Linked DNA regions of Homo sapiens. The protein of the gene in region 3 purifies or fractionates together with the protein of the main gene of each other region. This does not show direct contact. Each region holds a gene or a part of one and is shown on either strand. Other genes may lie near its edges.

What was found.
Region 1: the proteins of SLC9D1 (region 3) and CUL4B purify together in Homo sapiens (affinity purification with mass spectrometry; 2 studies listed by BioGRID and IntAct, with this or other methods). This does not show direct contact.
Region 2: the proteins of SLC9D1 (region 3) and ADCK2 purify together in Homo sapiens (affinity purification with mass spectrometry; 2 studies listed by BioGRID and IntAct, with this or other methods). This does not show direct contact.

The regions. Positions count from the first base shown.
Region 1 is NC_000023.11:120,554,310-120,557,962, forward strand, and holds part of CUL4B (cullin-4B), read right to left. Parts: coding exon 3,615-3,653; intron 1-3,614.
Region 2 is NC_000007.14:140,689,925-140,692,910, reverse strand, and holds part of ADCK2 (uncharacterized aarF domain-containing protein kinase 2), read right to left. Parts: intron 2,152-2,986; coding exon 2,098-2,151; intron 1-2,097. UniProt on the Homo sapiens protein: The function of this protein is not yet clear. It is not known if it has protein kinase activity and what type of substrate it would phosphorylate (Ser, Thr or Tyr).
Region 3 is NC_000013.11:113,546,373-113,550,025, reverse strand, and holds part of SLC9D1 (transmembrane and coiled-coil domain-containing protein 3 isoform 1 precursor), read right to left. Parts: intron 2,727-3,653; coding exon 2,647-2,726; intron 1,724-2,646; coding exon 1,574-1,723; intron 602-1,573; coding exon 488-601; coding exon of another isoform or gene 474-487; 3' UTR 1-473. UniProt on the Homo sapiens protein: Probable Na(+)/H(+) antiporter.

The DNA.
Region 1 (3,653 bases), on a different chromosome or scaffold from region 3:
ATGATGAGTGACAGATTTGTAACCTAAGGCAGGCTGGACAGCTCAAAAGTCAGTGCATTTAATCAGTCTTATTTGCAGTCAATTAAAAACAAGCACGCAAACAAACAAAACAGTCAAATGAAAACATTAATCACTGCCTCACACCCACAGGATCTCAAGGTTGTCAAGGAAAGATAATTTTAAAACTCAGGTCCAATTCTAATTTAAAATTACTTTAAAAAGACAATGTTTGCTTACTGCAAGTGTACTTAGAACAGCATGTTCTTTTATAGAAATTAAAAACTTAGTAGGCAGTACATGCAACCCACACTAGGGACTTCCATACTTAAAGCTTTAAAGCAAAATGTTTTTTCATGCAGAAGTAAGTTCTAAGCAGATATATGCCAGTAAGTGTTTACCTCAGAGAAAGAGGGTGGGACAGGGGTTTGGAGAACTTTTGTATAACTACATATTTCCACATTATTTCAATTTTAGAAGAGTACTTTTTCTTATGTTTTTATTTCCCACTCAGGTAGATTGAGAGAGTACTTCTAATTACGTTTCAATGAGTCAAAATCAAACAAGCACCTGAAGTCCAGATTATATGAAATAGCTTTACCTCCTTTATCCTCCTGTTTGAACTTGAACATCTCAAAATAATCTTTCTGAGAACAATCCAAAGGAACATTTATAAAATTAAGGTCAAAAACAGTAAAAGAGCTAAAAACCAATGCTTTTGAATTCATTATAGCAAAAGCAGTAAGGTATTATGAAAAATGCAAACAGTGAAGTTATAAGACTTGTGACTAGGCTAAAGAAATGCAACTGAACAACAGCAGGTAAAACTTACGAAGTACAAGAAAACAAAAACAAGAGATGCAAGCTCTATGCTCTTGAAAGAAAAAGATTTAACAGAATCAATGTATCAGGAAAAGTATTTTCAAATCAAAAGCTCTGGAAAAATATTCAAGGTAAAGTAAATAGGGTTAATTAATAACCACAATAAACATTTGTTACAAATATGGAATATATAAAATATTATTGAAATTAAATATGCTGTATACCAGCATATCCAAATAAACACCATATACTATCCAAATAAACACCACTTATGCATGCACAGATAAAAATACTACTAAAATTATAAAGAGCTTTTTCCCTAAAGTAAAACAATTTAATTGTTTCAAACACTGCACTACAGTGGTATTCAAAGTACCAGGGTATATTAGTGAGGTGGTACAGGAGTAAAAGTGCAATGAACTAGAAATCCAGCATCTCAGTTTGAGTTGCCCCTGCTCTGCCAATATGTGACTCTGGGCAGGTTATTCAACTTCTCTGAGACTCAGTCTCCTCATCAATAAAGTGGGGATAGGCCAGGCGCGGTGGCTCACACCTGTAATCCCAGCACCTTGGGAGGTGGAGGCGGGTGGATCACTTGAGGTCAGGAGTTCGAGATCAGCCCGGCCAACATGGTGAAACCCTGTCTCTACTAAAAATACAAAAACTAGCAGGGCGTGGTGGCAGGCGCCTGTAATTCCACCTACTTGGGAAGCTGAGGCAAGAGGATCACTTGAGCCCGGGAGGTGGAGGTTGCAGTGAGCCGAGATCACGCCACTGCACTCCAGCCTGAGTGACATAGCAAGACTCCATCTCAAAAAAAAAAAAAAAAAAAAGTGGGGATAGTAACTACTACCCTACGTACCCCAGAAAGGGTTTCCATAATGCTTATATGAGATAATACGAGATGAATCCCCTTTGCAGGCTGTCATGGACACCACAAAGAAAAAATATTGGACCACATGCTCTCTTAAGGCCTTTCCAAGTCAGTTTCATATTTTGGCTTTTATTGTTGTACATTTTAAGAGACGCATATATAATACGCCAAAAGAGCCATATGAAATGGGCTTATTCTTAAGTAATAGCTTAGTACTACAACTACTAGCCGACATTTGCATAGCATTATAATGCTTATAATGTTACACGGCATTATTACTATGTGTTGTGCACTGATTTGAGTATTTTGCGTGTACTAATTTTCACAGCAACAGAAACTGGTGATCTCAATTGTCATACTACAAGTGAAGAAGCTATAATGTGGCTTGTAAAAAAGTTTGACTCGTGATACCATCTTATATTTGTAAGATTATAGTGCCTGGAGGCGTTTTCCACAAATATCTTATTTGATTCTTATCAGCAACCTTGTGAGACAGGTAGGGCAAACTATTATTTCCTCTACTTTAGAGAGGAGGAAATTTAAATTGAGAGTGACGGCTGGGTTTGGTAGCTCATGCCTGTAATCTCAGCACCTTGGGAGGTTGAGGTGACAAGACTGCTGTAGCCCTGGAGTTCAAGACCAGCCTGGGCAACATAGCAAGACCCCTATCTCTTAAAAAAACAGGAAAAAAAACTGAGAGGGCTTTAGTACCTGGCCCAAGATTATGAGGGTAACAGCAGTCAAAACTAGATCCCAAACCCATCTTCTGACTCCTAATCCAGGTTTACCCATCACCATACTAGCTCTGCAACTAAAATATACAAATACTGATAAATAAAACCAACATAATTTCTTACAAGGTACTCATCAATACAAAAATTCAAGCTATTGTACTCTGAAGTATATATATATTTTTTTTTTTTTTTGAGATGGAGTTTCACTCTTGTTGCCCAGGCTGGAGTGCAATGGTGCAATCTCGGCTCACCGCAACCTCTACCTCCTGGGTTCAAGCGATTCTCCTGCCTCAGCCTCCTGAGTAGCTGGGATTACAGGCATGCACCACATTGCCTGGCTAATTTTGTATTTTTAGTAGAGACGGGGTTTCTCCATGTTGGTCAGGCTGGTCTCGAACTCCTGACCTCAGGTGATCTGCCAGCCTTGGCCTCCCAAAGTGCTGGGATTACAGGTGTGAGCCACCGTGCCCGGCCTGAAGTATCTTTTAACACCAAATCCCTGACACTCTAATGAAAGTAACTTCTTGAATTGGTTGTGTGTCAAATACACAGTAGGGAAAAATTTCTTGGTAGCAAGGGATTGCCCTTAGGAACTGCCCTTAAAATTATATTTAAGTGTAAGGACCCATTTGCTAAGTAAAGAATCTGAACCTCAGACTAAGCTGCTGGACTACAAACTGCTACTCATTTCTGGGCTAAGGTGCGTCTTGTAGCCCAGGTATTAGAAAAATGTAAAGAGCAAGAAAAAGAAATGGCAAAGTCTACTATTAAGAAGGAGGTAGAATAAAGGATATGAATAATATCTGCATGTCTTGAGGCCTTTCCTATGGGTAGGTAACACAACTAAGAAACAATTATCACAATAGAATGACATGTCACCAGAAATCATCTTTGGGATTCATGCTATAGGATTACATTATAGGTAGAACTTCTATTACACCAAGGTACACGTAACTGTAATTTCTTATCAGGAGGGTCAAATATAAGCACAACTTATACTGGTATGACTGTACCCATGGTTTATGTGAGAATACGTGGTCTAATTATAGAGTTCATCAATTAATGGAGAAACTAAAATTAGAAGGGAACCAAAAGTCTACTTAAGAACCTATTTCAGAAAGCAAAATCCATATACATCCCACCTCAATTTATGTTAATCAAATCTGGTTATGCATATTAATACATACCTGGTAGAGTTCTTCTAAATTGTACTTAATTGAAGTACT
Region 2 (2,986 bases), on a different chromosome or scaffold from region 3:
AGTTCCTCAAAAACTAAAAACATACCATATGATCCAGAAAACCTACTTTGGGGCATATGTTTAAAAACTGGAAAGCAAGAACACAATGTATAGACCTTACTGGCTACATTAAATGTTTTTAAAACTTTTCTAAAATTTGAAAGTAGGATCTTGAAAAGATATTTACACATTCATGTTCACTGCAGCATTATTCACTATAACCAAGAAGTGGAAGCAACCCACGTGAACATCAACAGCATCAACAGAATAACAGGCCAAGCGCGGTGGCTCACGCCTGTCATCGCAGCACTTCGGGAGGCCAAGGCAGGTGGATCACTTGAGGTCAGGAGTTCGAGACCAGCCTGGCCAACATGACGAAACCCTATCTCTTACTAAAAATACAAAAATTAGCTGGGCATGGTGGCACTTGCCTGTAATCCCAGTTACTTGGGAGGCTGAGGCACGAGAATTGCTTGAACCCAGGAAGCAGAGGTTGCAATGAGCCAAGCTTGCACCACTGCACTCCAGCCTCGGTGACACAGTGAGACCCTGTCTCAAAAGGAAATCCTGTCACATGTTACAACATGGATGAAACCTGGGGACATTATATTGAGTAAAACAAGCCAATCACAAAAGGACAGTATACTTTATAATTCCACTTATATGAAATATCAAGAGTAGCCAAAATCATGGAAACGTAAAACAGCATGGTGGTTCCCAGGGCCGGATGGAGAGGGGAATGGGGAGCTGGTCAATGGCTGTAGAGTTTCAGCTCTGCCAAATGAGAAAGACCTAGAGATCTGTTGCACAATGCTAACACTATGCATCTGGAGAGGGTTGGGGGGTTAAATTTTATGTGTTTTTCATCACAATGAAAAATTTGTAAATGTTTTCAAACTTAAGTGCCTAGTGAAGTGCTTGGAGTGCAGTAGCTGCCCTAGGCCCTCTGTCTCCTCTTCCATCCTGGGAACAGCAGCAGCAGCAGCAAACACTCAAGGCCCCTCACCCACCGTGCTGGAAACTGTGTGGGGAGCAGATGCTCAGAGTGAGCCACGGAGGCGGGAGGACCCAGCAGCAGGCGGGGGCTTGCCCACATGGCCACAGGTGAGCTGCTCGGCCTCTCGGCTTTGGTGCCTGCCTCTTGGAAGACTGAGGGGATAAATTGGTTACTAATAGATGTCATATAGTTAAGTAATGCAATGGAAAAGGCCATCTTCCAACGAGGTCCTCCCTTCTCCACCTTCAACACTGCTTGTCCCTGGCCAGCAGCCTTAGTTTAAAGAGTGCCGGAGACTAGGCTCCATGACAAGGCGACAGAGCCGGGGCACAGGCTAAGATGAACCATGAGGCCAGCTCCCTCTAATGGACTACAGCAGCCAGGCAGGGGCCACAGCAGTCCCGCTAGGGCCTCTGAAAGCACCAGGACACAAGGCATGACCCTCTAGAGCGGCCTCTGGACCCCAGGACTTCATTCCACCAGGAAAGAGCTAAGCATGACTTACATTAACACAAGCATCATGAAAGTGAACCAAGGAGGGAAAGACATGAAAAGCCAGAGGTAGGCTGTTTCTACATTTTTAAATACACTTTTCTACATTTAAATGTCACAGATACTTAGACTGCACTGACTTGACAGATAGACTAACAGCTACGAAGCACTTGTTGCAAATGGCTTGTTACTAAAAATGCTTTCAAAATATATAATAGGCCGGGCACAGTGGCTCACGCCTGTAATCCCAGCACTTTGGGAGGCCGAGAAGGGTGGATCACCTGAGGTCAGGAGTTCGAGATCAGCCTGGCCAACATGGTGAAATCCCGTCTCTACTAAAAATACAAAAATTAGCCAGGCGTGGTGGTGGGAGCCTGTAATCCCAGCTACTCAGGAGACTGAGGCAAGAGAATCACTGGAAGCCAGGAAGCAGAGGCTGCAGTCAGCCGAGATCGCGCCACTGCACTCCACCCTGGGCGACAGAGTGAGACTCTGTCTCAAAAAAAAGAAAAACAACAACAAAAAACAAGAACCATATAATAGAAGCGCCTCCCACCACCCTGTGTCCTCCCATTCCTCCCTGCCCCGTCCCACCTTCCCCAGAGACCTCCCCTCTGAATGGCCCTCACCTTGTGAGTCATCAGCAACTTAAAGACACTAGAGAGAAGGCTGGACACATGAAGCTGGAAAAACAAAATAAAGGCTAATGCAGACCACCGAGCCTTCCAGAACCGCTCATTTCCCACCACCCCCACACTCTCAGCCCCAGCATCCCACCCCACTCCCCCGCCAGGGCACACATACACCAGTCAGCACAAAAGGGACCATCTGACAAACTCTGAAAGGACTCCTCCAGCACAAGCCCAACTCCACCTCAAGACTCGGTCACAGAGGCCTTTGGAAGACAAGCCTTTGAGCCCCACCCACCCCATCCCTGAAGCAACCACAAAAATCACACCTGCCTATAATCCTAGCACTTTGGGAGGCCAAGGCGGGCGGATCACTTGAGGTCAGGAGTTCGAGACCAGCCTGGCCAACATGGTGAAACCCCATTTCTACTAGAAATATAAAAATTAGCCGGGTGTGGTGGCGGGTGCCTGTAATCCCAGCTACTCGGGAGGCTGAGGCAGGAGAATCGCTTGAATCCGGGAGGTGGAAGTTGCAGTGAGCCGAGACAGCATCACTACACTCCAACCTGGGTGATACAGCAAGACTCCATCTCAAAAAAATTTTTAAAAAATCACACCTGGATAGACTATCAGCAGGGCCAGCGTGCCAGTGGCCACTCCTTGTCTGACCCATTCCTGCTAATGTGGCCATGAACTTGGGGATAAAACAGTCACATTTGCTAGAACTGTGTATAAAATACAAAGCAGGCTCTGGCTTGGGTTTAAATAAGGGACATGCGCATTGGGCACATCATTTGGCTGCTTGGAGACCACAGTCCTCCCTCCCTGTATGCTTGGCTGTCCCCAAATGAACAGCGACCCCTGGATGAGGAAGGAGCTGCAGCCTCCT
Region 3 (3,653 bases):
CTTTAAGAATCAAAAGTAAGCTTCCAAGCTCACGGCCAGGATTACAACTTCATATTACAGAAATGTTTAATAACAAATATTTGACTAACAGATTATAATTCTGAAGTTGTACATTTTTAAAAGCCTTTTAATTTTGCTTCTTTACTAAAAAAACTATGAACTGATGAACTCACAATAGAAAATTAATAATAATTTCAGGGAAAAAAAAAAAAGGCACATCCAGGCACCACATTCAAGGTGATCGGTAAAACGCAGTGTCCCGGGTCTACTGCACATAATCAACAGACTGCAAATAAACTACTCCGGAAAATTCTAAAATAGGACAAGAATATTCTGTAAAAGCCGGGATAACACGACTGCACTGACGCTCTGCTAGAGGGCTGTTCTGTTGCCAAGGTGCGAGCTTCCCAGAAGGAGCAGCTGCTGGCCATCTAAGCGCTCACTCCCCACAGACGCTTCCCTTCCACGGTCCATCATCTCCGAGCCATCAGAGGCTGGACCGTCTCTCCGGTCTGGGCACACACCTCGTGATTGCAGCTCTCCACAGCACCGGGGCGAGCAAGAGGCTGAGCGTGGTCACACTCAGTATAAGGAGGTACACCTGCAACAGCAAAGTGCAGAGCGGGTCACAGAGACTGTCAGGACTAGCACCTGCAACAGGAAAGCACAGGGCTGGTCTCACTGAGCTGGGAGGGACGCCTGCAAAGCTAGAGTCCTGAGGCTGAGCACAGTCACGCTGAGTGCTGGGAGGGATGCCTGCACGGGGGGGTGGGGGATGGAAGCTAAGCGCGGTCATGCCGAGTGCTGGGAGGGACGCCTGCACATCATAAATTCACTACTATCTCTTTAAAGCACATGGAAGTACAGCCAGAAGCTGAGGACATTGGGATGTAGGAGAGACTGTGATTTCAAGATCAGTGATGCATGGTTAGTCCTGATGGGCCACAGGATAACAGCTTTAGCCTGTGTTTGCCTGAAGGCCAACCCCGGGCCACAGTAACAAGCCAGCCTGCCCCACAGCTTCCCTGACCCTGGGGATGCGGCCTTGGGTCAGGCCTCAGGTGGAGCTTCCTGTAAGCAATTCTACCTTTCAGCAATTACTTCCACTGCACTCAACACCTGGACTTCTACCCGCCTCACACTTACACAATGCAAGGAGACAAGGCCGTGAGTCCGAATGCCCAGGGCCATCTCAGTGTCCACAGGAACCTCCACCCAGCTCTCCGGGCACACTGCCATTACGGGTATTTCACGTTTCTGGGGTGCTACTTATGTGCACACTGGCAGTTCAGCTTTAAAAAGTTAGTTTTCTTTCAGAAGAAATATCTGACATTTAATTAGACTTGTTGTAAAAGGTTAATGCAATAGTTCAAGCAGTACTAACTGCAACTTTCCTCTGAAAACGCCACATGCTGGATGAGCAGAGAGCAGCCAGGCCTCTGCGTGCCCCCCTGGAGGAGGACCCTGCCCCCAGGCCCCGCTGTGCTGCCGAGCCGCCTTCGCCACACCCGACTCAAACCCAGAGTGCAGCCCGTGCCGCCCGAGAAGCGCTCCGCGGGGGGAAGCCACTCACCTCCCGAGAGATGACGCCCGCTCTTCGCGCCCGGCTCCCCAGGACAAAGGAAAACTCGCTGACCTGGGCAAGCCCCGCAGAGACGATCCACTTGATGTACTGGCTGCTCCTCGGCAGAATGAGAGACAGGACCAGCGCCGCCAGGAGAAACTGCAAGAGCGGTTCATTACGTCACTGCTGAAGACTGGACCCACACAGAGTTAAACACACACGAAACAGAGAACCCAGACGAGCCACAGGCACGCTGCGATGGTCCCTGAATAACACGTCAAGTAGGGAAAGGCACAGAAGCACTCCAAACACCCGAAGGCACCAAATACACGCAAAACCTCTTAAATAATCCACACTGAACAATAAGGCAAAATTAAGCCTTTCGGTTCATTAGCAGAAAATAATAAGCCTTGCCCAAGCCCCCCCGCCCCCGCCCCAACCAAACTAGATTAATAGCATTAAGCGTGGGGTACTCAAGGTGGAAATTTCTTTTTAATACAGAGAGATGTGTGTCTCTGGGCCGAGCAGCTAAGAGCTGGTGGTGTGTCTTTGGGCCGAGTAGCTAAGAGCTGGTGGAGTGGTCCAACGATCATCACAGCTTCTGGCTCCTTAAAACGGAAATGACCTAAGTCACTGTCTATGAGCCAGAAAGCCACTGGTTGCTGACTAGGTCATCACACCTTCAATTAAATGTGGACACAGGCAGCTCGATCACTGGCAGTCACGGGGGACAGACAGAAAGTGCCTACACCATTTTCCAGTCTTTAAAAAGCATGTCTGCATCTGTCAGAGGAGGACGGGCTGGACTGCAGCCAAGGCCCGTCCTGAGGGTCCCAAAAGGTTAGTTCCCCCCTTTAAACACGCTCAATTCTGAAACAATCGATCACATGGACAAACCCAGACCGCCCAGCCTCGTCTACATCTGCCTCCCCCGGGGTCCAGTGGCCCAGTGGGCCTCCTCCGAGATGAGGAGCAGGGCCGGCTCTGCAGGCCCGATGTGGGCCCCACTGGAAACCAGGGCCACAGGGAGGGCTATGCTGAGCCTGCAAACTGCGAGGGGCGTGGACCCTTCCAGTCCATACCTTCATCACCACCACTGACAAGGTGAGGAACACCAGCACCGTGAGCTCGTACGCCACAAACGTGGGGAACACGTGGAGCCCTGTTGGGAACAGGACAGACACGTTACGACCGCAGGACAGCCTCCCCCAGCGCACACTATTTCTCACAACTTCAGTGTGTCACTTGCTTCAATACAGGAATTAAAATCCTAAATCCTCCCAAGTGCACGTGTGAAAGCAACAGCAAATGCTAAAAAGCCGCCCCTTTCCTGAGCGAACCGGGGAAAAGCCTGCCCTGGGATGACCTGTCTGATGTGGTGGGATCCCAGCTCCACTCCCTGCAACAGGCCTCAACTGCAGAGGACACAGCAAAACACACAGAGGCGGCACTCGGTCTGGCACTCCTTCAGGAAATATTCCAGCTGAGGTGCAGATGATCCCAGAGCCCACAGCCCCACAGTGCCCAGGAGTGCCCAGGAGTGCCACGCTCACAGGACGCCTGTGGTCAATGTTCCTTTCCTTCCTTTATTTGGCTCACACATTTTTAAAAACAATGGGAAACGTTGTCTCCACATATTTCTTCTCTCTGCTCTCAGGACTCTCGGACTGGGCTGCTCAGTCCTGCTGTGCTGCCGAGTGACGCAGAGGGGCCGGCGGTGCTGGGGCTGGACCTGAGCTTGGGCTCAGCTCTCCAGCCACAGCCTGGAGCTGCCCAGTGATGCATGTCAGCCCTCGGAGGAAGCCCGGCAGCCCAGAGGCCTCCTCTTGATCGGAAGGACCCAGACCCCAGGGTTAGGTGCACGGAGCAGGCCCATGACCTTTCTGCCGTTCACAAACCACTGTCTCTACCTGACCCAGAAACACAAATGTAAACACTGGCCTTTTTTCTCTTGCCACGACCCGGGGTTCTCTTGCGCTTGAGGGCTGCCTTCTCTGGCCACCCAGTCTTCTAGCCACGGCCCCTCCTCCTGGGTCTGGGTCTCAGAGCTGCCCCCTCCATGCCCACTCCCAGTGCTCCCCACGGCCCC